Linked DNA regions of Homo sapiens. The protein of the gene in region 3 purifies or fractionates together with the protein of the main gene of each other region. This does not show direct contact. Each region holds a gene or a part of one and is shown on either strand. Other genes may lie near its edges.

Region 1 (4,073 bases), on a different chromosome or scaffold from region 3:
ACATCGCATGCAGATATCCTTGTGAACTCGTGCCCGTGTAAGACACATGATCGTGTGTGCACACATCGCATGCAGATATCCATGTGAACTTGTGCCCGTGTAAGATGCATGATCGTGTGTGCACACATCCACAGTAAGGCCTCAGTGCTATCCACAGGTTCTTGGAAACTGTGACTTTAAGGGAAATGGCGCACAGCAGACCCTGCAATCATGCCGTTTTGCTTGAAGTCGCAGTTTCCCAGGACCTCTCACGTGAGTATATACATGCTCACGATGACACGCAACGTGTGCACACGTACATGCTGACTGGTCTCCACTGTGGCGTTCAGCTGTGTTGTCTAGTTTGGATTCCTCAGGTGGGTTGATGGGGCTGATGTGAAGGCCTTTCTCCCGGCTAGGCTGTGATGAGGAGGAGCGGCTCTTTGGAGCCGGGGCCTCCCTGCTGGTTCTCAGAGGCCCCTTCTCAGACTCAGTTCCTGCAGGTGCTCCTGCCACCTCTAGCTCTGCATTTCTTTGGCGTCTCCAGGCCACAGAGTAGCTGACCCACCTGCAGTGGGTTGGGAGGCAGAGAAGGGCCTCCCACAGGAATTTGAAGTCCGTGCTTGAATGAGGCTGGGGTGGAGGTGTTGGGATGCGGGAGTGGGTGAGTGAGTGCGTGCGGGTGGCGATGCAAGCGTGTGCGAATGCGTGTGGGTAGATGTAGGTGTTGGGGTGCGAGGGTGTGTATGGGTGGACGTGGGGGCCTGACAGGCTGTGTGGGTGTGTAGAGGCGTGTGGGGGTGGCTGTGGGTCCAGGTGTGTGTGTGTGGGTTGGTGGTCATTGGCCTGCCCCATCTTGCCTTTCTGTCAGGGTCAGCGTGGTGGGCCGGGATGGTGTCCCCTCAGTGGGGCCAGGAGGAGTAAGGGCTGTGCTCTCTTCCTGTCCTCAGCTGATGGCCGTGGTGGCCAGTACCGTCCTGGGCCTGGTGCAGAACATGCGTGCGTTTGGCGGGATCCTGGTGGTGAGTCCCAGGCTGCTGCTGGTGGCGGGTTATGCACTGGAGTGGGAGGCTGGGAGGCTGGCGGAAGGCAGTGCCGGGCCGGCTCACTGCTCTGTCGGTAGGAAGGTTCTTGGGTTCGGACGGCAGCAGGTTCCTGAGGCCAGGGAAGTACAGGGTCGGGGTAAGAAGCCAGAGGCATCCCCTTCTTTGTACAGCAGGGAGCTCGGGTGGTGTGGCTGGTGGCCCTGCCTGAGCATCCTTCCCTCCCATGGCAGAGACTGTTTGGTAATTTTTGAGTCTCTCGTGTTTTCTGGGTTGTGGATCTCGTTGAGAAAGTAATGACAGAAATTTAAGAGGCGCAGGGCTTTGCTCCAGGGACCCCAAAGCCTGCACAAGCCCTGGGATGAGGACTTGGTCGAGGCTCCTTTCTTAGAGGAATTTCAGGGACTCACAGCCACATTTGCTGAGCGAGAACTGTGGGACGCCCCGGCCCCTCCCTGGGGGCCAGCCTTCCAGCTGAGGAGCCCATCTGCTCTGCCTGGTGGCCGGGCTTGGGCAGGAGAGGGGCCTGTGACCAGGCAGGCCCCAGATCCGCGCCGTGCAGAGTGACAGGAGGCGCCCTTTGCAGGAAGCCCGGCCACACTTCAGGCAGTTTTGCCATTTTATTCTGACCACCTTGACGTAGGGACCACTGGGGTGAGAAGGTGTCTCTGGGGCCGCAGGGTGCTCTGGGCTGGACCCCAGCTGTGCCTCGCGCCTCTGGAAATAGACGCTGGGAAGAGAATCTTGCCTCAGGTGCTGTCTGCCCAGCCCCCTAACTTGCACAGCAGAGGAAACTGAGGCCCAGAAAGGGGACCAGGTTAGCCCAGGCGTGTACCCCTTCCACTCTGCTGACGCATGTTAGGGACAGGCCTGGGGTTGGCGGGCAGCCTGTCCCCTAACTGTGGCTGCCAGGGTACCTGGGGGCAGGGCCCTAATTCCCTTAGGAGCTCCATGACCACGCCTGCCTGAGCCCCACTGTGTCTGTGGACCCGCCAGCCCTGGGGGAGGCCAGCTGCGTGTGTTTTGAAGTAGCAGCCAGGCTGGAATCCCAGCCCTGGGCAGAGGGTCCTGGCCTCACAGTCATCCTCTGGCTTTGCGGTTCTGTCTGGGGAGGGTGGTGGTGGGTGCACCCATGGGTGGGGCTGATCAGTCCCCGGCTCCTGGCCCGCCAGGTGGTCTACTACGTATTTGCCATCATTGGGATCAACTTGTTTAGAGGCGTCATTGTGGCTCTTCCTGGAAACAGCAGGTGAGGTGGGGTCCGAGGTGCCACAGGGAGTGTCTCAGGGGTGCTGGGGTGGGCGGGAAGCCTTGGCGGTGGCCTCAGTGGGCTCAGCATCTCAGGATGGGAGGGTGTTCTCCCAGTTCCTTCGTCTCCTCCCTCCACCCCCTTTTCCCGACCCCCAATTTCCACCTCCGCTCCGCACCTCTCCTAGGAGCCCTTGCCTGGAGTCTGCTAAACACATTTCTCGTGGCCTGCTCAGAGCAGCACTTTCCCTGCCCTCTGAGCCTCTGTATCCCAATTTGTACCTTCAGGCCAGGCTGAGCACGCCAGCAGAGGAAAGGGGTGTAAGGTATCAGGCCTCAGAACCTGGAGCCCCCGCCCCTGACCCAGGTGTGTTGTGTTCCCCAGCCTGGCCCCTGCCAATGGCTCGGCGCCCTGTGGGAGCTTCGAGCAGCTGGAGTACTGGGCCAACAACTTCGATGACTTTGCGGTGAGCCCTGCGCCCTGTCCCAGCACCCTGCTCCCCGGGCTCCTCCCCTCCCTACCTCCTGGGCCCTCCTGGACCGCTGGTCTCTGCCCCCGCAGGCTGCCCTGGTCACTCTGTGGAACTTGATGGTGGTGAACAACTGGCAGGTGTTTCTGGATGCATATCGGCGCTACTCAGGCCCGTGAGTCCTCGTCTCCCTGACGGCAGTGATTCTCCGTGCAGCCTGGGGGTTCCCTCACCTCCGGGCACGCTGCATCTGCACTGGACGCCCGGAGCGTGGCTGGGACGGGGACTCGGGCCTTGACAGGGAAGTCGGCCAGCGTGGCATCCTGGCTTGCCTTGTCCCTGCCCCCTGCATAGCCACATCGTGACTCTCAGGATGGTGGCCAGTGACTCTGGGTTTACACCTCCTGGAGGTCGTTGGTGTGTTTGGGGCTTCTGAGGAATTCCATGGGGGTGGGGGAGCCCCGGGAAGGCTGAGTGAACGAGATAGTTCAGCTCTGAGCTTGAAGAGCTCAGACTGGCCCCAGCTGATGGTCCTGGGTTTTAATCCCAGCACCGCCTCCTGCTGGCTTAGCTACCTCGGCAGCTTGTTGCACGTTTCTAGGCCTCAGTTGGGTTGTTTCTGAGATGGAAATAGTAACGCGCTCTGCATCATGGTGTGTGTGGGCCGGCTGCCCGAGAGCTGTCCTGGCCACGCAGCAGTGGTGTTTGTATCGAGTGCTCTTGCTTTGCTCATCGTGGTTCACAGGGTGGGTCTCTGTCCTCCGCAGGTGGTCCAAGATCTATTTTGTATTGTGGTGGCTGGTGTCGTCTGTCATCTGGGTCAACCTGTTTCTGGCCCTGATTCTGGAGGTATCAGAGATCCCCACCCAGGCTGTTCTCCATGGTCGTTTGTTTCTAATTCACTCTCGATGGGCCTGAGGCCACCGGCCGGGCCTGCCTGGAACTTTGATGGGAGAGTCGTGCTGGGTTAGGCGGGTCCTGAGTGAGGCTGAGCCCCTCCCGTGGGGCTCAGTGCTGCCCGCCCTGGCTGCTGGGGCCTTGGGGAGTGCTCCTGACATCTGGGCTGCTGGGGCCTTGGGGGGTGCTCCTGACATCTGGGCTGCTGGGGCCTTGGGGGGTGCTCCTGACATCTGGGCTGTGGGGATTCTCAGGCCCCCAGGTCGGGCTGAAGGAGGGACTTGGACATTGGCTCCAGGAGGAGCCAGCAGCCTCGTGGGGCCTGTGCCTGGGTGTCCAGGGTGAATGGCTCAGCCCCCTCAGCGGGTGCCCTGTGGCTGACCCTGGAGGGGCCGGGGATGGGGCAAGGCTGCTTTCATTCGGGGCCCACACTCAC
Region 2 (4,073 bases), on a different chromosome or scaffold from region 3:
AGAAAAAAAATTAGAAGAGATTCTGGGGTGGAACCTTAAAAACCTCCTGATTTAAAGAAGAAGTTCAGGAGAAGAGGATGCTGCCATGAAGACTGGGAAAGAGGAAGCAGATGGCTAGATGAAGAGAGGAAGGGCAGTGACCCCAGGGAGGCTGCAGGAAGATAAGGGCAGTGACAGTGGGCCATCCAGTGGGGTAAAGAACTGAAACACGTGTGTATGATTTCATGATGAGATCATTTCAGGCTTCCTGAGAGCACTAGTAAAGGAGCATAAGCCGAATTTGAGTGATTAGAATCCTTTTCTCAGCACTGATATTCATTAGTGTGTAATGGGGTCTTTCCATTACCTCCTTTGCTTCCTTGCCTTTTGGCTAAAGTCAGGTTAAATATATATCACTTCTGATTATGTGCCCTCCTCAACAAAGACATTTCTGTTTGTCTGCATGTCACGCTATGTGATTGACACCACACGACCATATGAATTATGTAGTGTAGGAAAGGACAATATGTGTACTTACACAGGTAATCTTTCTAGCAAGAGTTTTATTTAAAAATACCATGAAGAATCAAGTTTACTAGGAAATATTGGATTTAAACAAGGCTCAATATTCAAAACTTTCTAAATAATTCCCAGATCTTGTACTGTAACATGACCATGATATAAAAACACAAACTATACTAACCAGGGTAGTTTTAAGTAGTGATGCTAAGTAGTACATGCTAAAAGAGTTTGGCATGTACTCTGAAGATTTAATTTGATGTATTTCTCCTGAAAATCTGAAAATTTTGAATCTGAAAATTCTCTTTAGCTAGTAATGCTGATATTCACACATGTGGTTACAACTTCAGCAGAAGGACATCTCTAGTGTTGACTCTTCCTTTCCTTATCTTGTCTCCTGCTTCGTGAAAGATCAGAAATAATATGGGACAGTTGTCTAAAACTCTGTAGATGAAATGTTCAAGTATAGCCTGACCTAAATCCAGAGAACTGAAAGACAAAAAAGGACTTTTAAGGAAAAAAATATGATTAGACAGCAACTAAATAAATAAAAGAATAAATGACTTCTGTTTTATACCTACAGGCTGTTGTCTGCCATTCTCAGAGTTTCAGAAGTTGAATCTCGAGCAATAAGAGCAGATCTCACTCATCTACTAAGTCCCCAGATGGGCAAAGATATTGTTTGGTTTTTAAAACGCTGGGCAAAGACTTATCTCCTGGTGGATGAAAAACTGTATGATCAGGTCAGAATGTAAAACTTAAAACTTCATTTGGATTTATGATGATAGCAGTTATAGAAGCAGGAACATTTTTCTTGGTGGTTTTTCATCAAAATAGAACTGTTTAAGAGCAGTTTAACATTTTCTGTGTGGAAGAGAATTATGTGACTGGAATGCTGTTTTAATGTGTTTTTGAGCACATCCCTTGATATCGTTTATTTTAACTGCTGTTGAAGATACAGATTATTATTTGGGAATAGATTATGCTTTTTTGTATTTGGTTTAATACTATGTTAATTTTTTAATACTATGGGAATAATAGAAGTTGACGGGAAAATCACACTGGAAAATGTGAGTGGATTGAGGATGTCTTTTTTTTTGACCAGTGGAAATGAGTACATGTGTAAAGTTGATGTGAAGTAAGCACTACTTCAGATTAGATACTAATTTCAGTTCGATTTTTCTCTGTTTTTTTTTTCTTGAGTTGATCTTTCTTGCTTACCTTAAAAAATTTGTTTCCTCTCTTAAGATAAGTCTGCCATTCAGTACAGCGTTCGGAGCAGATACAGAGGGTTCTCAGTGGATAATTGGCTACCTCTTACAAAAAGTCATCAGTAACCTCTCAGTCTGGAGTAGTGAGCAGGACCTTGCAAATGACACTGTGCAGCTCCTTGTCACTTTGGTGGAAAGAAGAGAAAGGTTAGCCCATTGTTGGAGGCTGACTGTGTGTGTATGTGTGTGGGTGAGAAACTCTTTTTCACTTCTTAGTGTAGTCCTTTGAACTGGCAAATGGTTACACGGTCCTAATTCCAGATAGAGCCTACATTTTTGGAGTAATGGGTTTTAAAAACTATGTCACAGTACTATTACAAATGCAAATGGAGCTTTCCCATCTTATAATTGAGCATTACATTGACTCCTTCAGGATTTGGCATCAAAGCCCTATGAGTAACACATTAGTAATTTATCGTGTTGCAAACACTTTTATGTGGAATATGCTCATTTGAATTTTTAGACATCCCCATTTTAAAGATTAAATACTGATATTTAAAATTTAATGTTGGAAAGTAAAATTTTTAGTGCTTTCTACAACAATTCTAGAAATGTTTTCGTTGTTCTTACTGTATAGGAGTATCATTGTTATTATTACCATTGTCATTGTCTGGTTTATTGAATTCTTATAATTTACTATGTACTCTTCTAAGCATGTCATAGGTAGTATCTCATTTAATCATTATATCAGTCTCAGCCCCAGGAGACTGTTATTATTCCTATTTTGCAGATTATAGAGAAGTGATGATTGATAGAGGTTAAATAAATTTTACATCACCAGACAACTAGTGGGATTTGAATGTAAGCCTGTGACTTCAAAGTCTATACTAAGTTTACTGTACTTTGCTTTAACAGTAATTAAATCTAGTTATTTTTTATTTTTGTTTTCTTTGTGTGTATATGTGTATGTGTGTATGTATATACATAGTAATACATCTTATGTTTTGTTATTTCTACCTGTAGGGCAAACTTAGTAATTCAATGTGAGAACTGGTGGAATTTAGCTAAGCAGTTTGCAAGCCGAAGCCCACCTCTTAATTTCTTGTCAAGTCCTGTGCAGAGGACATTGATGAAGGCTCTAGTCTTAGGAGGTTTTGCACATATGGACACAGAAACCAAACAGCAGTATTGGACAGAGGTAACAGTGCTGTCTATTTTGATTGCACCCTTTTGTGTAACTCTGTAGTTCCTTTATCTATGCGTTGCCGTAAGAGTCTCTGGAGACATAAATGTATCAGTCATAGCTTTTCTTTCTTTCTTTCTTTCTTTTTTTTTTTTTTCTGAGATAGGGTCTTACTCTGTTGCCCAGGCTGGAGTACAGTGGTGCAGTCTCAGCTCATTGCAGCCTCTACCTCCCAGGTTCAAGCGATTCTCCTGCCTCAGCCTCCCAAGTGGCTGGGACTACAGACTCATGCCACCATACCCAGCTAATTTTTGTTTTTTTTAGTAGAGACGGGCTTTTGCCATGTTGGCCAGGCTGGTCTCGAACTCCTGGCCTCAAGCAATCTGCCCGCCTTGGCCTCCCAAAGTGCTGGGATTACAGATGTGACCAGCCACTGTGCCCGGCCCAGTCATAGCTTTTCTGATATTTTTTCTCCTAATGAATGGGTTGAAGCTTCTTATTTTACAAATGTTGTCTTATAATTTTTCTGTACCTGCCTGTGTGTGATGACATTGAATATTATCAAGTGTTCTGCATTTTAGGCACATTTTTCACAACTCAGTCGAGAGCATGGACTGGCTTATTAAATTTTCATTAGGGATCAGGGAAATATTCTCCTGTCTTGAATAAGATGCAGATTAACCATGATATTCATTTCCTAGGGCTGCTCTAACAAAATACCACAACAGAAATTTGTTTTCTCCTACTTCTGGAGGCTAGAAGTCCAAGCTATAAGGTGTCCATGGGATTTGTTCTTTCTGAAGGCTATGAGGGAAAATCTGTAGCCTCTGGTAGCTTGCTGGCAGTCTTTGGCATTCCTTGATTTGTAAACGCATCACCCTGATCCCTGCCTTCATCTTCACATGCTCCCCCTGTGTGTGTCTGCATCCACACTTCCCCTTTCTATATCAGTTATATTGAACTAGGGGCCCACCCTATTCCGGTATGACCTCATCTGAACTAATTACATCTATGACAACCCTATTTTCTTTTTTTTTGAGACGGAGTCTTGCTCTGTCACTCAGGCTGGAGTGCAGTGGTGTGATCTTGGCTCACTGCAACCTCCACCTCCTGGGTCAAGCGACTCTCCTGTCTCAGCCTCCTAAGTAGGTGGGATTACAGGTGCGCACCACCATGCCTGG
Region 3 (4,073 bases):
TGCAGGCCAAGGGACAGGCATAATCTTGTCAAGTTCAGTTACTGGGATCAGTAATGTTTCCCCTCCCCTTCCCAATTCAGAAGTTAACATCAATCAAAATCCAGAATGACAAGATGCGGACTGGAAACCTTCCAGCCAACATGAAGAAGAACCGTGTTTTACAGATCATTCCATGTAAGAGCCCTCCCGCCACTCCAAAGCCTTATTGCCCCATCCCTCAATTCCCTCCACCCCTTCCATTTCTCAGGTACTAGTTAATGATTGGCGTATAGACAAGAATCATGGCATTGCCTCTTGTTGCACCCACTTAACAACATGGCGTTGCCTTTTGTTGCACCTTAGTGGCTTCTGGAAATAACGTAAAAGCCAAAGGCTTTCTCCCTAATGAGCTAGGAACAGACATGTCCTTGCCCAGCTGGGATTCTGTCTGCCCAGGGCCTGAGGTGGGAGCAATGCAAGGAGAGGGAGAGGACAAATGATATTGGCTAGCCATAAGCCGCTATTCTTCTTACAGATGAATTCAACAGAGTGATCATTCCAGTTAAGCGGGGCGAAGAGAATACAGACTATGTGAACGCATCCTTTATTGATGTAAGTGGTGGGTGTGACCCCTGAGCCCCCAACACCCCGTGGAGATTCAGCCAGCACTTGCAGTGCCTCCCTCCCATACCTGCTGGGGAGGATCATGTTTGAATCAGTCAACAAATAGTGAATTGATACTCACCCACCCACTCACCCTGTGCATTAGGTCTGTCCAGCTCCATAGAGCAGAAGGTGGGGGAAAACAGATGGCATGCAGTAGTATAATACCTGGAAGAAAAAGTTCACAGAGCAGACCACAGCCAAGAGGAACCTGGCTGCCCCCTGATCTTTCCCATTCCTGCCCTCTTCATCCTAGCTCTAATCCCTGTTCCACTTCCCTGTCTCTTACAGAAAGCAACCAGCTTGTCAGATAGGGTTTCGTCCTTGGCCACAGGGGAGCTCTGCATGGGCTGAGTTTGCCTCCGAGCAGTCCCCATTCCCTTCTAGTGGTCTGTCTTCTCCACTAGTCCCTCTGTGATTAAACCATCTCACCCTTGCAATTAACCTGGCCTGTGCAGGGCTACCGGCAGAAGGACTCCTATATCGCCAGCCAGGGCCCTCTTCTCCACACAATTGAGGACTTCTGGCGAATGATCTGGGAGTGGAAATCCTGCTCTATCGTGATGCTAACAGAACTGGAGGAGAGAGGCCAGGTGAGTTCAAAAGGTCCTGGGTGGTGAGAGACAGAGACAGCATGAAAAGATGTGTGTGTAAATGGGGACGTTGGGAAGGCAAGAAGGTGTTTGGACCTTGTCTTTGACTTATACGGTCCAAAGAGTACGTTTGCATAGTATAAGTACATACTTAAAGGTATATAAATACATATGCATTTCCAGGATTGCCCAGCCCGTTGGTGTCTAAGCAGTCATTAGCTTCTCCCAAGACTAGAAAAGCAATGTGATCTGAGCCTCCATGTTATTCCCAGACAGCTCACACCCTTGCACTTTCTCCTGAATACAGTCCCCCTAGCCTAGCCTTTGCACAGTGCCCCAGGCGGGGGGGGCACCCTCTCCTTCCCAGTGCCCCAGGCAGGGCAGATAGGTCAAGGTTCTGAGGTGGACCCAATATGAGTGTCCCTAAGAAGGGATTGCCTCATTGCTGACTACATAAAATAAAGCAGTAGAATTTGAGAAATTATACAAACAAGAAACTTACAGTCTAATATTCAGTAATAAGGAAATCTTTTAAAGAAAAAAGCCCTCAGGTCTATTAAAAAGCAGAGCTGTCCGGAAACTCATACTAAAAAGGGACACTAGCAGTCCCCTAGGTCAACTTCCTCTCAGTATAGGAAACCTCCTAATATTGTTCCTGAGTCAGAATCATACAGCCTCTACTAAGCACATTCAATCTCAGGGATATCTCCCTCACCCCCCACATTATGGGGGGACCCAGTCTGTGTTCTGACAATGCTTATTCTTTTAAAAATTATTTCTGTTGAGGTTGCACATTGCAGCAAATGAGCGGTTCACTATGTCTGGGGTGTCACTTAGCAGGGATGAGAATCTAGAGAATGGGCCTGGAGAGAAGCTAGCAAGGCCTGGTGAGAAAATTCCTTCTAAGCCACAGTGAAGAGTTTGGTCTTCCTAAAGCAATTGAAGAGCCCTTGACAACATCCCATTTGTGTTTTTTAAAAAATCCCTCTGGCAGCAGTGAGAAGGACTCATTAGAAATGCGAAAGCTGTGGCAGTAATGCTGGTGGCCTGGACTCGGGTGGTGAGAGGGTGCTGTCCCAGAAAGGGTGAAGTGAGGAGGAATTAAGGATGGCACCCACTCATGACTCATTGAATTTATAGTCAAACATTTAAAATACAAAGTATGTTTTACATTAGTTGTCTCAAGTCACTAGTTGTTCCCCATCTGTACTTGTGTTAACTTTGGTACAAGGCTTTACACATATTTTCTCACCCTGATGTTTCATTACATCAGGATTTTTTTTTTTTTTTTGGTTTTGTTTGTTTGTTTGTTTGTTTGAGAGAGGGTCTCACTTTGTCACCCAGGCTGGAGTGCAGTGGCACGATCTTGGCTCACTGCAGCCTCAACCTCCCAGGTTCAAGTGATCCTCCCACATAGCCCTCCAAGTAGCTAGGACTAAAGGCACGTGCCACCATGCCCAGCTAGTTTTTGTATTTTTTTGTAGAGACAGGGTTTCACCATGTTGCCCAGGCTGGTCTTGAACTCCTGGGCTCAATTGATCCACCCACCTGGTTGACCCAAAGTGCTAGGATTACAGGTTTGAACCACCTTGCCCGGCATTTTTTTCAATTTTGATCAGTCATTTAACTCATTAGCTATTCTTCCTAGACTTGTATCATGTACCTAATCAACAGACATACTTTGTAGGTCTTCATCATCTTTTTTTTTTTTTTTTTTGAGACGGAGTCTCTGTCACCCAGGCTGGAGTGCAGTGGCACAATATGGGCTCATTGCAACCTCTGCCTCCCAGGTTCTGGCAATTCTCCTGCCACAGCCTCCCTAGTAACTGGGATTAAAGACACCCACCATCATGCCTGGCTAATTTTTGTAGGCACGGGGTTTCACCATGTTGGCCAGGCTTGTCTCAAACTCCTGACCTCAGGTTATCTGCCTGACTCAGCCTCCCAAAGTGCTGGGATTACAGGCGTGAGCCACTGCGCCCAGTGTCTTCATCATCATTAATAACAATACTGATGAGGTGGGAGGTTCGGTTAAGGTGCTTGGCTTTGCACTCAAGGAAGCACACACCTGAGTAACAAAAGCTGTTTAGGAAATGAGCCACTGTGTTCTCAGGAGCTAGGTGCCTGTTCCTGCCGTCTCTGATCAGTCGTGATGGAACCTGCAGATCAGACCAGGGCCCTACCTGTGGTTCCTTCTGCACCCCTGCCCTTCAGATCTGTGATGGGCAGGACCAAAGAGCAGGCCGAAGAGCTGGAACCACGAGCACAAGGACCATCTCGGCCCACTGCCCTGTGATAAAATGTGGCCCAGTGAACATCTCCGCCTCTGTCCAGTCAGATGCAGGCTCTTCCATCCTTGAAAAGGACCTAGTGAGAGTAAAGGGCAGGGGGCAGGAAGCATTTCATGTGTGTGGCGGTGGGGAGAAGAGTCGTGCGCACACAAATTCTGCTGCCTGTTGAGTGAGGCCTCTCCCTCTGCCTTCCACTGTAGCTTATGCTCTGTCTTCCTAGGCCAGTGAAGCAGACAGTAGTGCTTGCCCTCAAAAGCTTCTGAGTGGATTGGAACAGGATGTTAGTGATGTTCTTTACAAGGCCTCACTGGCCCCCAAGTTCACTTTCTGTTCCATTCATGTTGTCAAGTGTAGCTCCCAGAAGTAATTAACGCACTAAGCCTAAATGATGCAATGAAAGGTGCCTACACTTATACAGTGACACTACCATCCTCACCTACAATATTAAGTTCCCAGAGAAAAAAATTCGATCCCATAATATAAATTCTGTACTTACAAATTAAAATCTCGAAGGAATTAAAAATTTTTAATTATCTCCCTCTGCTTT
Region 4 (4,073 bases), on a different chromosome or scaffold from region 3:
TAAAAAAAAATTAAAATACACTGAAAGCTGTTAAAAAATTATTCATTACCTACGGAGCCATAAAGATTTGAATGTACCCATGCACTTTTCATCACAATCCTTGGAAGAATTTAGTGGAATGGTGCCTTTAACGCATTGGAAGAAAAGACCTGTCAACTCAGAATTTTATATCCAGTGAAAATATTCTTCATGGGTGAAGGTGAAATAAAGACATTTTCAGATAAAATAATTCATGAGCAATGGGATTGCTCTATGAGATATGCTGAAGGAAGTTATTTAAACTGAAGAAAAATGATACCAAAGAGAAACCTGCATCTTCAGGAATAAAATAAATGCAAAATAAATGGTAAATAGCTGGTTATTAGAAAAGATTACTTTTTTGCCTCCTAAACTGAAAAAAAAAGAAAAGAAAAACCTATAATTGTCCAAAACAAAAATAGTAACATTATCTCATGGAATTTTAAATATGCATAGATGTTTGACAGTAGTGAACATCAGTAGTAAAGGAACTTACCCCACAGACCTTCATTATAGTTATATTATTAAATATGAAATGATATAAAACTAACTCCAAGTAGACTTTAAATGATTAGATATGTATATTGTAATCCCTGGAGCACTGAGTTAAAAAATACAGTGAGATGTAGCCAAAAAGCCAATAAAAATATTCAAATAGTCTTACAGAGAACAGGAAATCTTAAAGAGGCCAAGAAAGGGGGAACAGAGAAATAGACTAGATCTAACCATATGAATAATTAAATGATAACAATCTAAACACCTCAATTAAAAGGCAGACTTTGGCTAGGCATGGTGGCTCATGCTTGTAATCCCAGCTCTCTGGAAGGCCAAGCCAGGAGGATTGCTTGAAGCCAGGAGTTTGAAACCAGCGTGGGCAACATAGCAAGACCCTGTCTGTACAATTTTTTTTTTTTTTTAATTTTAACTAGCTGGCCATGGTGGCACATACCTATGTAGTCCTAGCTACTCAGGAGGCTAAGGCAGGTGTGTTGCTTGAACCCAGAAGTTCAAGGCTGTAGTGAGCTATGATTGTGCCACTGCACTCCAACCTGAGCAACAGACTGATCTCATAATAATGAGGAGTTGGATGTTATGGTGTGTTCCTGTAGTTCCAGCTACTCAGGAGGTTGAGGTGGGAGGTCTGGATTGCTTGAGTCCAGGAGTTCTAGGCCAACCAGGGCAGCATAGCAAGACTTTGTCTCTGAAAAATATTGATTATAAGAAACAGTTCATCAGGAAGACACAATAATTATCCATGTATATTCACTAAATCACAGAGCCTCAAAACAATGACACAATTGGTAGAATTAAGGGGAGTTCTAAATCTGAGTAGGAAATTTAAAAACGCTCAGTTGATAGAAGAGGTAACAAAAATTGGTCAAGACAAATCTCAGCAACACAATCAGCTACTTTTATATAATTGACATTTATAGAATATACACTCAACAACTACAGAATACACTATTTTCAAGTGTATACAGTACAGTCATCAAGATAAACTATGTTTGGCTATTTAAAAAACCTCAGTCAATTGAAAAGGATCCAAATCAAAGTACATTGTAAAGAGTTACAGAACATTACTGAGGGATTTTAAAAGAGATTTAAATAAATGGAGAGACATGCCATGTTCATGGAATTGAAGACTCGGTATTGTTAAGCTGCAACCCTCCCTACATTGGCATCTAAATGTATATCAAAATTGCACCTATCAAAATTCTAGCAGGATTTTGTAGAATTTGACAAGCTGATCCTAAAATTAATATAGAAAATAGAAGGACCCAGCATAGCCAAAACAATTTGGAAAAAGAAAAAGTTGGAGGACTCACACTTCCCAATTTCAAAATTTACTACAAAGCTACAGCTATCAAGACTGTGCTGCTAGCATAAACAGAGATGAATAGATGAGAGAATAAAATTTAGACTCCAGAAATAAACTCTTATGTTTATGGTTATTTAAATTTCAATAAAGATGCCAAGGCAATTCAATGGGGAAATGATAGTTTTTGTCAAAAAATGGTGCTGAGATAATTGGATATCTGCATGCAAATACAGTCAGACTTCTGTATCTGCAAGTTCTGCTTCCATGGATTCAACCAACCACAGATTGAAAATATTACATAAATACAAATAATACAGTATAAGAACTATTTACATAGCATTTACATTGTATTAGGTATTATAAGTAACCTAGAGATGATTTAACTTGTACAGGAGGATGTGCATAGGTTATGTGCAAATACCAACCCCCTGTGGATACTGAGGGATGACTGTAGGTGAATGTAGACACTCAACTTATATACAAGCATTAACACAAAAAGGATAAGATGTCTAAATGTAAGAGCTAACACTATAAAAATTGTGGGCTGGCGGTGGCTCACGCCTGTAATCCCAACACTTTGGGAGGCCAAGGCAGGCGAATCACGAGGTCAGGAGATCTAGACCATCCTGGCTAACACAGTGAAACCCCGTGTCTACTAAAAATACAAAAAATTAGCCGGGCACGGTGCCAGGCGCCTGTAGTCCCAGCTACTCGGGAGGCTGAGGCAGGGAAATGGCGTGACCCCGGGAGGCGGAGCTTGCGGTGAGCTGAGATTGCGCCACTGCACTCTGGCCTAGGCGACAGAGTGAGACACGGTCTCAAAAAAAAAAAAATTGTGGGCGGGGCGTGGTGGCTCATGCCTGTAATCTGAGAACTTTGGGAGGCTGAGGCGGGCAGATCCCCTGAGGTCAGGAGTTTAAGACTAGCCTGGCTAACATGGTGAAACCCCCGTTTCTACTAAAAATACGAAAGATTAGCCAGGCATGGTGGTGCATGCCTGTAATCCCAGCTACTTGGGAGGCTGAGGTAGGAGAATCGCTTGAAGCCCGGAGGCGGAGATTGCGGTGAGCCAAGATCGCGCCATTGCACGCCAGCTTCAGCAACAAGAGCAAAACTCCGTCTCAAAAAAAAAAAAAAAAAAAAAAATTGGAAGAAAATATAGGAAGAAAATCTTTTAAGACCTTGAATTAAGCCAAGAATTCTTAGGTATGATACCAGAAACAGTCTATAAAAGGAAAAATTGATAAGTTAGGCATTATCAAAATTGAAGACTTTTGTGATCCAAAAATGAAAATGTAAGAAAATGAAAAGCCACAGACTGGGGAAAAGATACGCAAATTCTGTATTTAGTAAAGGACTTGAATCCATAATATACAAACAACTCACACAGCTCAATGATAAGATAAACAACCCAAGTTAAAAATAGATCTAAATAGATATTTCACCAAAGAAGAGATATTAATGGACGAAAAGCACATGAAACATGTTCAACATAATTAGTTATTAGGCATTAATTGCATTTGGAGCCACAGTGAAATCCCATTTCACACTCACTAGAGGAATGGCTATAATCCAAAAGATGATGACAAGTGGAGGGGATGTGGAGAAATGGGAACCCTCATACTTTTTTGGTTGGGAATGTAAAATGGTACAGCCACTTTGGAAAACAATTTGGCAGCTTCTTTAAAAGCTAAGCATTAATTTAACATATGACCCAGCAGTTCCACTCTAAATAATCTACCCAAGAGAAATGAAAACATAGACTACACAAAGATTTTATGTGAATAATCATAACATTGTTCATAAAAGCCAAAAAGTGGAAACAACCCAAATTTCCGTCAACTGGAAAATAGGTAAAATGTGTTATACAGTGGAATATAATTGAGCAATACAAAAGAACGAAATACTGATACATGCCTTAAAAATTGGTGAACCTCAAATACATGTTTATTTTAAGTGGATTAAGCCAGATTTTAAAAGACCAAATATTGTATGAATCCATTGATATGAAATGTCCAGAAAAGGCAAATCTGTAGACACAGTATATTAGTGGTTGCCTGGTGTTAGGAAGGCAATGGAGATTAACTGTAAATGGGCATGAGGTATCTTACTGGGGTGGTAAAGATTTTCTAAAATTAGAAACGTTCTAAAAGTTGGTAAATTTACTACAAAGATTATTGAATTGTAGACTTAATATGAGTGAATGTTATGACATGAAAATTAAGCCCCAATAAGG
Region 5 (4,009 bases), on a different chromosome or scaffold from region 3:
AAAGTTATAAGAAGTATATATAAGATTTAATCATACTTTAATAAAATGTATAGTATTTCAGCATCTTTTAAAATTGCAAGTGTCTAGATTCTTTTTTTAAATGGATAGATCTCATAGCTGAAGATGTCTTTTTTCTATCATATGCCATTCACATTGCCTTTGCAACAAATGATACTAGTTGTATTTTGGTATCTTGGAGCTATAATCACTAATGATGTTTTATACCTGAATTTGATGTTTTCTTTTGATATAAACGAACTTTATATTGAGATGAGAAGAAACTTTTCTTTTAAATGAATGTGGATAATTATTGAACAAAAAAGGATACATTGCTTCCCCTCCCTCCAAAAAATTTTTACATAGATTTTCCTAAATGTGTAACATGGTTATTTAATGCCATTTCCATTAATATGTTACAAACAAGTAAGCTACTGCTTTGTGTATGGTTATAGTGTCAAATTGCATTTTAACATTCAGGAAGAAATGAGTTTGAGCTCTTAAAAGCTTTGTAAAGATTATGTAATAACTGGCTGGTTAGATATTTCTGATATTGTCACTTATGGAATATTAGAAGTTGAGGCACATACAAAAATTAGCCAGGCGTGTGCCTGTAATCCCAGCTACTCAGGAGGCCGAGGCACAAGAATCGCTTGAACCTGGGAGGCAGAGGTTGCAGTGAGCTGAGCACACCACTGCACTCCAGCCTAGGCTACAGAGCAGGACTCCTTCTCAAAAAAAAAAAAAAGAAGTTGAGGCAGAATTAATACAGACTTTCTCTAGAGGGCAAATTGGCAAAAAGTCTCAACAATTCAAAACTATAACACTTTGACCCAGCAGTTCCATTTATAGTAGTTGATACTTAGGAGAGAATCATGGTAGTGCACAAAGATTTAGTTACAAAGATAATCATCACAACCTTGATTTACAATAGCAAAGAGATGGTAACACCTTAAATGTCTAGTATTTGAAGCTGAGCAAATAAACTGTAATATATTATATCTATATAGCAGTAGGTATAATTTGGTCACCATAGCTTGCTTTGGCATTTTGGTGTTCTTGTAAAAGAACACTTACTGATAAGAAAAAGTATTCTCAATATATTGCTCATTGATAAAAGCATAAATCTGCAGGTACAGTAAGAACCTTTTTTGTTAAAATGGAGAGAAAATAGTTTCATTTCAGTAGTAGCAATTTCTGGTAGTTGGGCAGTGGGTGACTTTTATTTGTCTTTTTGCTTGTCTGTATTTGCTAAAGTATTGTACTGAATAGATTTTCAAGAATTAGTGATAATAGGGTTTAAGGATTTTAATATCTACTTTTTAGATCAAAATTTGATATTAGCCTAAATTATGTTTTCCAGAAAGTATATAGGCAACAACAGAACAGCAATATATTCTTTCTTGCAGACCGAACAGAAATGCTGTCTGAGAGCAAGAGTAAGTTTTTTCTTTTTTGGGGTTTTTGGGGGGTGCCTAAATTATACTCATCTGAGTGTTAAAATATATATCTAAAGATTAATGCAGCAGTTTGATTTTCTTCAAATTAGGCTTCCGAAGATGAGTCAACAGTTATATATATATGTGTATATATATATATATATATATATATATATATATATATATATATATATATTATAAATGTTTTAGAAAGCAATAGTTATTAACATGTGCTTTAGAATTTTAAACAGGTCTAAGTATGACAAACCATTACCACTTTCTACCTTTGTGACTTTGGGTGAAATACTTTAAGCCTCCAAGGTATTGTGGGATCTAAATAAGATGCTATGTTAAAAGTGCTTAGCCAAGTGCTTGGGCCAAAATCAGCACTCGGCAAAACAGAAGCTATTTTTCTAAAAGATAAACATTCTTTATTAGTAGCCTGTTGTTAATTATCATTGGTACTGGCACAGTGTGTGTGTTTATATGGTTTGATTTTGGTAAACAGCTTGTGTTGCCCTCTGAATTGCTAGGTAAAAGTCCAAGAATTTTTATGTTATTTAATATTTATTCTCCTTCCCTGCAACAGATATATTGGATGAACTGAAAAAAGAATACCAAGAAATAGAAAACTTAGACAAGACCAAAATCAAGAAATAGTCAACCTGATTTCACATAACAATGTGTGGCATTTGTTGTTCTGTAAACTTTTCTGCTGAGCATTTCAGTCAAGATTTAAAAGAGGACTTACTATATAATCTTAAACAGCGGGGACCCAATAGTAGTAAACAATTGTTAAAGTCTGATGTTAACTACCAGTGTTTATTTTCTGCTCACGTCCTACACTTGAGGGGTGTTTTGACTACCCAGCCTGTGGAAGATGAAAGAGGCAATGTGTTTCTATGGAATGGAGAAATTTTTAGTGGAATAAAGGTTGAAGCTGAAGAGAATGACACTCAAATTTTGTTTAATTATCTTTCCTCCTGTAAGAATGAATCTGAGATTTTGTCACTCTTCTCAGAAGTACAAGGTCCCTGGTCATTTATATATTATCAAGCATCTAGTCATTATTTATGGTTTGGTAGGGATTTTTTTGGTCGCCGTAGCTTGCTTTGGCATTTTAGTAATTTGGGCAAGAGTTTCTGCCTCTCTTCAGTTGGCACCCAAACATCTGGATTGGCAAATCAGTGGCAAGAAGTTCCAGCATCTGGACTTTTCAGAATTGATCTTAAGTCTACTGTCATTTCCGGATGCATTATTTTACAACTGTATCCTTGGAAATATATTTCTAGGGAGAATATTATTGAAGAAAATGTTAATAGCCTGAGTCAAATTTCAGCAGACTTACCAGCATTTGTATCAGTGGTAGCAAATGAAGCCAAACTGTATCTTGAAAAACCTGTTGTTCCTTTAAATATGATGTTGCCACAAGCTGCATTGGAGACTCATTGCAGTAATATTTCCAATGTGCCACCTACAAGAGAGATACTTCAAGTCTTTCTTACTGATGTACACATGAAGGAAGTAATTCAGCAGTTCATTGATGTCCTGAGTGTAGCAGTCAAGAAACGTGTCTTGTGTTTACCTAGGGATGAAAACCTGACAGCAAATGAAGTTTTGAAAACGTGTGATAGGAAAGCAAATGTTGCAATCCTGTTTTCTGGGGGCATTGATTCCATGGTTATTGCAACCCTTGCTGACCGTCATATTCCTTTAGATGAACCAATTGATCTTCTTAATGTAGCTTTCATAGCTGAAGAAAAGACCATGCCAACTACCTTTAACAGAGAAGGGAATAAACAGAAAAATAAATGTGAAATACCTTCAGAAGAATTCTCTAAAGATGTTGCTGCTGCTGCTGCTGACAGTCCTAATAAACATGTCAGTGTACCAGATCGAATCACAGGAAGGGCGGGACTAAAGGAACTACAAGCTGTTAGCCCTTCCCGAATTTGGAATTTTGTTGAAATTAATGTTTCTATGGAAGAACTGCAGAAATTAAGAAGAACTCGAATATGTCACTTAATTCGGCCATTGGATACAGTTTTGGATGATAGCATTGGCTGTGCAGTCTGGTTTGCTTCTAGAGGAATTGGTTGGTTAGTGGCCCAGGAAGGAGTGAAATCCTATCAGAGCAATGCAAAGGTATGACACAGTGTTTCTTCTCCTGAGAATTCCTGAGACCTATTTTTGACCCTTAAAGCTTTTAGCATTTTGATTGTAAGAATATAGCATATTTTAGGTGCATTTATCTTATTTTCTTTACTGTGTAGTTGATAACATTTTTATACGGATTTCTTTAAACCTCATAGGTAGTTCTCACTGGAATTGGTGCAGATGAGCAACTTGCAGGTTATTCTCGTCATCGTGTCCGCTTTCAGTCGCATGGGCTGGAAGGATTGAATAAGGAAATAATGATGGAACTGGGTCGAATTTCTTCTAGAAATCTTGGTCGTGATGACAGAGTTATTGGTGATCATGGAAAAGAAGCAAGGTAATTCTAATCATTTGAGTGTTCTTACGGTATTTTTATAAAAACAGCAGAGTGTAAATGGAGACTTTAAAGTTTGTTT
Region 6 (4,073 bases), on a different chromosome or scaffold from region 3:
CTTGCAACTGAAATATGTTCTTCATGGGCTGGAAAGAGTTAATTTTGTTCATTTTCTCAAACCTCTTCTCCATGATGGCTTTTGTCTACCTACCTATTCCAGATAATATTAATAGATATCTATGCAACTGTTAAAGACTCTTCAAGGACAAAAACATCCCTCAAAATGTGCTCTCACCCTGATCTGTAAATAGTTCTTATCAGCCTTTTTATCTTAACATCTTTGACTAAGTTCAGTATTTGGAAGATGGCCTGGTGGTTTACATACCTCAAGACCTCTCAACAATCCAGACACTGAGATGCTACTCGGAGTGGGATTGTTCTTCTTTTAAGATCAGATATGACAGATATTCCTATAGTAGTCTAGCATGTTCGTTGAAGATAACTTTGCAAGTTGGCTTCACATAGTATTTGTCATTTGGTGTAGTCTAAAAGCAAATTCTCAGGCATAAATAAAGGCAGTGAGAAAGTTTTCTCACCTTATGTGGGAGTGGGGAGCATATTGGAGGGTCGTGGTAGTTATTCAAAAGCTTAATCCTAGGTTTTTGGGCCATGGAAGAGATTGCTGTCCCACTCTGTACTCTTGACATATAAGTGGGAAGTATCGGAGACATTTCAGAAGGACAAATAGTAAAAAGTAAATAAAAGTCAGCCTCTGCAGAGCGAGACTCTGTCTAAAAAAAAAAAAAAAGAAAAAAGAAAAAAGTCACCCTCTGATGTTGAAATATAGAATTTCAAAAGGTAAAATCACTTTACAATTTATGGAATGTGACCCGATGTATATTTTCTGTCTTGTGTTGACAATATTACTCAGAAAAGATAGCTCCATTTCAAGAGTGGTTAAGTATAGCTGGGACAATGTCCTAATTATATGGCCAGTTTTGCAGGAAGGAACAATGACTTCCCAAACCCGAGGTGCTGAATCACTATCAGAGATAAAAGCATGGACATTGACTATGATTCAAGGTGCAGGAGCTTATTTATTGTGCTATAAGCTTGTTAGAACTGCCTGATTCCATTGCAGTTCTTAAGGTTGTCAGTGAGGCTCTGCCAACCCACTAGACGGGAGGCCTTTATGGAAGCATCTTCCTTTTCCACCAATAGACAAGGCAATAGAGGGCGAATGTTGCCCTGAGAATTTGAAACAAGTTTATTAAGATGCATCTGAGCTTGAGGCTCTCATCTAAGATATGCAGCAGTTGGGAGGTGAAGGTGGTGGGGAGCATCATTGGATGGTTAGTGCATATACAGTTGTCAAGGCAAGGAGAGAGGGTGTTGTTTAGTATTGAAATCATGTATTCCAGATGTGGGCATTTGGTAGTCAGTCTGCTCTGAAGTGACATGCTGCTGAATCTTTAAAGGCTTCAGCCAGGGAGAGCAAAATCTGATTGGGCAAATTGCTAAAATATTTAAAGTGCAGCCTGTTAAAGCTTTTACTGCGAAGAGCATCACGTCAGAAGTTGTAGTCAGAAGGAGCGAGTAATTGGCTTTCCATCCTCATGCCAGTCAGTCAGCATGAGGCTCTATTCCTATTCCTTCCTCTTCATTGCCGAGGCTCATAGCAACCCTTTGGTGTGTCTGTCTGTGTGTGTGTATGTGTGTGTGTGTGTGTGTGTGTGCACGCTGGGGAGATCGAATAGCTGGTAAAATGAGAGGAAGAGGAGTGAGGTAGCCTTAAAAAGGGAGGCTGAATCCACAAAATGTTAGGAAGACCATTTAGGAAAAGAGGAGCGGGGGAAAGGCAGAAATGCTCCCTGACAAAGGTCACCTGCACTTCCAGAAGTGGGGTGGTGGTTTGGGGCAGTTGTCTCTCAAAGGATGGATTCTGTAAGCAGAAGAATGGCCTTCAGTGACAACCACTTCCTCTGCATCTTTCACATCCTCTGAGATGTAATTCAGGGGGCACTTTCCATTTATAATTTATCACATTTTCCACTTAGGTTTTCCTGTCCTTTTCTTCCCAGGCATGACCCCTTGTTAATTCCTGGCAATGATCAGATTGACAACATGGACTCCAATGTGAAGAAGTACGACTCTACTGGGATGTTTCACTGGTGTGCACCCAAGGAGATAGAGAAAGTCATCCTGGTGAGTGAGGGACTGTGCATCTGATGTTGCCCGCTTCTGCCCCAAACCACATTTGCTAGGAATGGGGTTTCCCTAGTTGGACAGTGGGATAATACTGTCCCTGGTCCTAATTATTTTTGATGAGTGAAATTCTGAGCATAGATTGAAGCAGCTAGACCTCTGATCAGAACATAAGCAATATTCAGATTTTTCAATCTCTGAATATATTGGCTCCTCATAAGAGTAGGTGAGCACTTGCTGTGGGAAAGCCATGGTGGGAGGTGGTATGAACATAATTCCTGTGGCCATGGCGCTGGTGTCAGAGCCTGCCTGTACCAATTATTAGCTGCATGGCTTGGGTAATTCATTTGACTTTTTGCACTTCGGTTTTCTTATCTGTAAAAAGATGAGATGAGAATGACCCTAACTCATAGGGCTGTAGTGAAGATTAAAATCCAACAGATGACTCAGTAAAGTTACCTCTTATTCTTACTATTATTAAATGCTGTGAGGAAAGCTGAATGCTGCCTGTATTGTTATTGGTTTATAGCAATGTTTTGTATTCTTATAGATAATAGCCTTGTGCATCTGTGAGCTTTCTTAGTGCATGTTGTAGACAGGGAAATGCATGATGATGCATGACATAATGATGACAATAATGAACTACAGTCCCCTTGGGGAGGCTGGGGCTCAGAGCCCTATTTCGTGGAAGGCTTGTGAACATCTTCATAGCAGCAGTGGGCTCACCCAGTCTCTCCCAGGAATGTCAGCATAGGTAACAATCCATTCTACTCTCTGCCCTTGTTCTATTAACAGCTTTGGGTCTTAATGCCTACACTGGCTTTCCTACAGTTTATTGTCTTGCTAATCCATGAGAAATGGATTAATAATCAGGAAAGTCAGATGGAAGGGTTCTTTCTCCCTTGGGCCTCTAATCCCCAGATTGGTATGGGTCTGTTCCTTTTTGTCAGCCAGGAAAATCCTATCATTTCTGATGTCAGGACCACCCTTCCTAAACAAGGACTGTTCTGGGTCCTCGGAATGGCTTTGTATGCTAACACACTGGACTTTCCCCTATGCTTTATCTATGTGTATGTGTGTTCTCAGCTTAATTATAAATGAGCATTAACAGCCAATACAGTATCAAGCTGGAGGCTGTCTCAGAGGTGGGAAAGTTGCAGGCAAGAGCACAGAAAGTCAGAATTCTTAGCAAACAGCTGTTGTCCAACTGACCAGGAGTGCAAATTGTTCTACTCGCAAAGCTGCTTCACGTATGTACATTCTTTTTGTTTTGTTTTGTTTTTTTGAGACAGAGTCTCGCTCTGTCGCCAGGCTGGAGTGCAGAGCCCTATCAGCTCACTGAAACATCTGCCTCCCAGATTCAAGCGATTCTCCTGCCTCAGCCTCCCGAGTAGCTGGGACTATAGGTTCGCGCCACCATACCCAGTTATTTTTTTGTATTTTTAGTAGAGACAGGGTTTCACCATATTGGCCAGGATGGTCTCGATTTCTTGAGCTCATGATCCGCCAACCTTGGCCTCCCAAAGTGCTGGGATTACAGGCGTGAGTCACTGCACCCAGCCATATATGTACATTCTGATGTATTCATGGCACTTTTGCCCTGGTGGCCTAAATTTAGCCTGATGTTACCACTTGTGGCAGGTCACAGGCTGGATGCCGTATCTGGGACCTAGGGTTTTAATGACTTGCCTGGATATTGGTGTAGTATGCATGCCAACTGATATTCAATCAACATCTCCTGCCAGCATAAAAAAGTTTAAGGAGGTGAGTTACTACTTCTATCCTATGAAAAATAACATCATTTAACAAAACATCTCCAGGAGGCCTACTATGTGCCACACACCATTCTAGTTACTGGAGATGCAATCCCTGACAACGACTGCTCTCACAGAGCTTGTGTTCTAGCAGGGTGGGGCTGGGGGAAGAGGAGTTATCTCTTTGTGTTCTAGCAGGGTGGGGCTGGGGGAAGAGGAGTTATCTCTAGGT
Region 7 (4,073 bases), on a different chromosome or scaffold from region 3:
AAAATACTTAGAAGTGAGACTGCTAGGTCATACAGTAACTACACACTTAACTTTAAAAGAAACTGCCAAACTGTGAAACTATTCTCCAAAGTGCCTTTCACCAGCCCTCAGTGGGGACCAGGCACCAGCGTGCCAAAGAAGTCTTCCAGGCAAGGACAGGGTTCAAGAGAAAGGCAGGGGAGGCGCAAACACTTGAGTACTGCAGACCTGAGGCCTCGGTGGGTGCCAGGGATGGGAAGGCCAGGGCAAGGGCACGTGCCTGAAAAGAACTGCCACACAAGAGTCAGTATGTGTGTGTGTGCGCGCGCATGCGCACGTGCATGCCTGTGTGCATGCTGTGTGCTAGTAGGGAGCTGGAGGGAGGGTGGAAATCCCTCTTGCTTCCCCATGAGGAAAAGCATGCACTGAAAATACCAAAAGAGACTCCCCTAGCTAGACTCAGATGAGAACGTCAGACACTTGAGTGCAGACCCTGGGAGCGTGCCTGACACAGCCACAGAGCAGGCTGGCTGTCTGGGCGAGGTGATGCCGTCCCAGTCTTCCACAGCAAGGGGTATTTAGCCCCCAGACAGTGCACTCTCTCCAATGGACAGCTGCATCTGCCCTGAAAGCGAATGCTCCCTCCCAGGGCAGTGTTTCTCCCAGTATGGTCAGAGTCAGAATCACAGTGCAGGTCTGGGGCCCTCCTGCGGAGACTCATATTCAGGCAGCTCCCCGCTAAGAAGGCCCTCGGTGACTCTGGCATAGGCAGGCTCTTTACACTTGGGGAAACAGCACTATGAGGTCAGCGGAACTGACGTTTATCAAGCATCTCCAAGTGTCATGCACTTTGTGTATGTCATCTCATTTAACCTCACAACAAACCTGTGACCCAGGCAACATTAGCTCCACTTTGCAGATGAAGAAACTGAGGCTCCAAGAAATTAATTAACTTCATCAATACTAACAGGCAGAACTGAGCTTCAGACCCGAGACTGTGGGGCTTCGAAGACAGGACTCGCTGCAGTGGTCAGGTTAGAGGAAGTCACCTGGCAGCAACCCCGCCCCCACGTTACCTGCATGATGGCACTGAACTGGGGCTCATTCTCCATCTGCTCCTCAGCGATCCCCCTCTGGACACTGGCCAGCACGGTGGACTTGAAGAAGTACCTCCAGTTGTGATGGAGCGTCCGGAAAAGGAGCTCAAACAGCTCGGCCTTCACATCAGGGGAGGGACGCTGCAAAGACACACAGACGCTCAGACCTGCAGCTTGCGGAGCTGCTCCGGCCTGGGCCCAGGGCAGCAAAGATGCCTAGGAGACGCCTCGTGACAGCAAGCCGAGTGTCAACACTCCATCCACATGCCTGTCACTACCTGCGCAAAAGACATCCAGCCCCTGGAGTCCTGTCACTGCCTGTGCAAAAGACATCTAGCCCCTGGAGTTGGCGGTTCACACCGCGAGTTCTTCAGGAGAGACATGGCCCACATTTGAGAGAGAATGCACGGGTCAGTGCCAAGGGCCCCTTTTTCTGATGAGCACTCAGCTTTTACACTAGAAAAAAGCTACCAAGTGGATGAACAATTAGGAGTATGGATTTCCTGTTCTATTCGACCTGTCAGATCTTCTTGCTTGTTCCTTTTCCCAGGATAAAAAATGCTGTCCCACTAACCTGTTGGTCTTACACAACCACGGAGGCTAAAGACAGACCCAACGCCTTAAAGCGATTCTGCTCCCCAGAAGGGGAGGGTTTAAAGAACACTTGGGAGCCAGGCTCTCTGGGCCAGTCTCCTCTTTCCCAGTAGCCAGGATTCTGAGAGGAGTTAGAGGAGAAGGGTCAGGCTCAGCAGTGTTTTCTCATTGACTCCAACTCCCCCAATCCCTTATTCCAAATGTCTCTGCAGAATTCAAAATTAGAAGGCCCACATATATTCAGTTCAGCCTTGATTAAAATTAAATAGACACCAGGGGCCACAAGCATCCACAGAAGAAGCCTCATAGGCCCAGTGCATTTCGTAATGCACAGCAACCAGACCTGTCCCAGTCTCAGTTCAGACAGTTAAAGATTAACTCTTATTTATACGACTATTACCAAAAAAACTGAAATTAAATCTATACTTATTCCGGGTCTTATTATGCTGAGTGCCTGCCTATTTTCTAAGAAGGACAAAGGGCTTTCCTGTAACACTGAAAGGTTTGTTTGAATGGTTTCAAGAACTTGCCTTGTATCCTCGAGACCATGAATGTTTCTAATAGGAAAGTACATATGTTAGAATGTTTGCTATAGAAAACCAGAGTCTCTTAAAGGTATAAAATTTGCCGCAGGAGACTGATCTTAGCAACTGACCCTGTGGAATAACTGCCATGCTTACACTAGACTAGCTCCAATGAACTCAATCAATATAAAAACACTGTACCACACCACTAAAGGCCTTCTTCCTTGGGAGAAACTACTTTACAAGCATATTAAACTAACAAATGAACTTTAAAACACAATACATTTTCTGTGAAATCTCATTCCCTTCCCAATCTGGAGATGGGGGGTGCTGCACAGGGGACCGTCTGAGCCCCTACCTCGGCAATGATGGGATACACTTGCTCCATGCACAGGGCGATGATGCTGGGGAGGAAGGGCTTGAACACCTGGCCTGGCTCCTGGACCACCACCTGCAGGATCTTCAGAAACTTCTCCACCACCCGGCAGCCTGTGCTGCCCTCGTGGAGGATGCTCTCGGCTAACTGCTCTCTACAGAGGAGAAAGCCACACAGTGAGCAACCACATGTTTCTCTGGGGGCCAGCATGAAAACCCATGCTGTGGCAAGTGCAGAACAGGAGCAAAAAGCCACACTTTGTCGCCAGACCCACCACTTCTCCCTTGAATCTGAAAACTATAGATGGTGGGTCTGTGCTTACCTGGTAAACATGTTGAGGAAAGTCTGTATGATTTGCTCAGTGAAAGGCACACCCATCTGTACTCTAAGGCCTCGAAACAGAGTGAGGAAGAAGCTCAGCATCTCATCAGTCACATCTGAGGAAAGGGGCAGAGATATCGTCAGAGGCTTGCACACAGTGAGAACCAGAACCCTGGGCTTCATCAACCTACTCCTGAAATCTGCACTATCAGCTTTCTCTACAGCTTCCTGCTGGAAACATTTCCCCAACACCATCAGGGCCAATGATGGAAAGTGGAAAACGATTAGGGACATGCTGAGAAAATAGTTCTGGTATAGGGAACCTCCACCTGGTGGCTCACTACAGGAAATGAAGGTCATCTCGAACCCTCCCTCATTGCCCGACATCCAGTGATGGTCAGAGTTTCACTGGAGAGGGATCACTTTGTGCCCACACTGATGAATGCCAACTGGGTCAACACCTGAGTGCTTAAGCCATTTCCCCCTATGACTAATAATCCCTGCAGCTGGGTCAGGGGTTAAGTGGTTGAAAGTGGATAATGAAGGTGTATTTAGGTTGCATGGCCCTGGTCCATTAAATGGATTAATTGCAGAAAATACTGGTTACATATAGGGCAGTTTCACTTCCAGATCTCAACAATCATCTTGTGTAGTGTGTTTCAGCCCTAACTGCACGCAATCTGCTTGCAAGAGGCAATGAATATTTGCTGACTGAGAAGTGCCTGATATTTCTCTTGTAAAACTGACAAGACTACTATAATGCTGTCATGAGAGCTAGGCAAGTACATCCACAGAGCTAGAGAGGCCCTCTATCACTGACAGTGACAGACAAGGGTGAGGGGAACGATCTCGGCAAATGCACCTTGCCACAAAATAAGGAGAACTAAGCCAAAAAAGCTCTCTTGCCTTCTCTTGTAGGTGCCAAGGCCCATATGGAGAGCTCTGCTCACTTTTCCAAAGGGCCTTGGCCCTAGACTCCACAAATAAACATCACTGCCCTTTCCCCTCAGTACCGGGTTTCGTTGCACGGAACAAGTCAAGGCCTGTACTGCACCGACTCAGTGTGTTCTACAGATCTAAGTGGGTATTCTGGCCCTTGTTAGCACCACCCACCAGTGGGGCCTCTGGGCCAGCTCCTACCTGACTGATGGATAAAAGCTGGAAAGAGGGCCAGGGAGACCT

The links.
Region 1: the proteins of PTPRA (region 3) and TPCN2 purify together in Homo sapiens (affinity purification with mass spectrometry; 2 studies listed by BioGRID and IntAct, with this or other methods). This does not show direct contact.
Region 2: the proteins of PTPRA (region 3) and XPO4 purify together in Homo sapiens (affinity purification with mass spectrometry, with the first as the bait; one large-scale study listed by BioGRID). This does not show direct contact.
Region 4: the proteins of PTPRA (region 3) and DENND4A purify together in Homo sapiens (affinity purification with mass spectrometry; 2 studies listed by BioGRID and IntAct, with this or other methods). This does not show direct contact.
Region 5: the proteins of PTPRA (region 3) and ASNSD1 purify together in Homo sapiens (affinity purification with mass spectrometry; 2 studies listed by BioGRID and IntAct, with this or other methods). This does not show direct contact.
Region 6: the proteins of PTPRA (region 3) and KCNMA1 purify together in Homo sapiens (affinity purification with mass spectrometry; one large-scale study listed by BioGRID and IntAct). This does not show direct contact.
Region 7: the proteins of PTPRA (region 3) and XPO6 purify together in Homo sapiens (affinity purification with mass spectrometry, with the first as the bait; one large-scale study listed by BioGRID). This does not show direct contact.

Annotation. Positions count from the first base shown.
Region 1 is NC_000011.10:69,083,016-69,087,088, forward strand, and holds part of TPCN2 (two pore channel protein 2), read left to right. Parts: intron 1-160; exon of another isoform or gene 161-243; intron 244-929; coding exon 930-1,001; intron 1,002-2,194; coding exon 2,195-2,271; intron 2,272-2,655; coding exon 2,656-2,737; intron 2,738-2,832; coding exon 2,833-2,915; intron 2,916-3,507; coding exon 3,508-3,589; intron 3,590-4,073. UniProt on the Homo sapiens protein: Intracellular channel initially characterized as a non-selective Ca(2+)-permeable channel activated by NAADP (nicotinic acid adenine dinucleotide phosphate), it is also a highly-selective Na(+) channel activated directly by PI(3,5)P2 (phosphatidylinositol 3,5-bisphosphate).
Region 2 is NC_000013.11:20,797,999-20,802,071, reverse strand, and holds part of XPO4 (exportin-4), read left to right. Parts: intron 1-1,081; coding exon 1,082-1,241; intron 1,242-1,746; coding exon 1,747-1,916; intron 1,917-2,732; coding exon 2,733-2,907; intron 2,908-4,073. UniProt on the Homo sapiens protein: Mediates the nuclear export of proteins (cargos), such as EIF5A, SMAD3 and isoform M2 of PKM (PKM2). In the nucleus binds cooperatively to its cargo and to the GTPase Ran in its active GTP-bound form.
Region 3 is NC_000020.11:3,026,607-3,030,679, forward strand, and holds part of PTPRA (receptor-type tyrosine-protein phosphatase alpha isoform 1 precursor), read left to right. Parts: intron 1-80; coding exon 81-174; intron 175-514; coding exon 515-591; intron 592-1,100; coding exon 1,101-1,235; intron 1,236-4,073. UniProt on the Homo sapiens protein: Tyrosine protein phosphatase which is involved in integrin-mediated focal adhesion formation.
Region 4 is NC_000015.10:65,683,729-65,687,801, reverse strand, and holds part of DENND4A (C-myc promoter-binding protein), read left to right. Parts: intron 1-4,073. UniProt on the Homo sapiens protein: Probable guanine nucleotide exchange factor (GEF) which may activate RAB10. Promotes the exchange of GDP to GTP, converting inactive GDP-bound Rab proteins into their active GTP-bound form.
Region 5 is NC_000002.12:189,664,016-189,668,024, forward strand, and holds part of ASNSD1 (asparagine synthetase domain-containing protein 1), read left to right. Parts: intron 1-1,360; coding exon of another isoform or gene 1,361-1,436; intron 1,437-2,025; coding exon of another isoform or gene 2,026-2,096; 5' UTR 2,097-2,117; coding exon 2,118-3,581; intron 3,582-3,748; coding exon 3,749-3,930; intron 3,931-4,009. Other genes in the region: ASDURF protein, read left to right, coding at 1,361-1,436, 2,026-2,096.
Region 6 is NC_000010.11:76,951,815-76,955,887, reverse strand, and holds part of KCNMA1 (Calcium-activated potassium channel subunit alpha-1), read left to right. Parts: intron 1-1,963; coding exon 1,964-2,087; intron 2,088-3,728; coding exon of another isoform or gene 3,729-3,851; intron 3,852-4,073. UniProt on the Homo sapiens protein: Potassium channel activated by both membrane depolarization or increase in cytosolic Ca(2+) that mediates export of K(+). It is also activated by the concentration of cytosolic Mg(2+).
Region 7 is NC_000016.10:28,103,491-28,107,563, forward strand, and holds part of XPO6 (exportin-6), read right to left. Parts: coding exon 4,032-4,073; intron 3,008-4,031; coding exon 2,893-3,007; intron 2,725-2,892; coding exon 2,553-2,724; intron 1,218-2,552; coding exon 1,056-1,217; intron 1-1,055. UniProt on the Homo sapiens protein: Mediates the nuclear export of actin and profilin-actin complexes in somatic cells.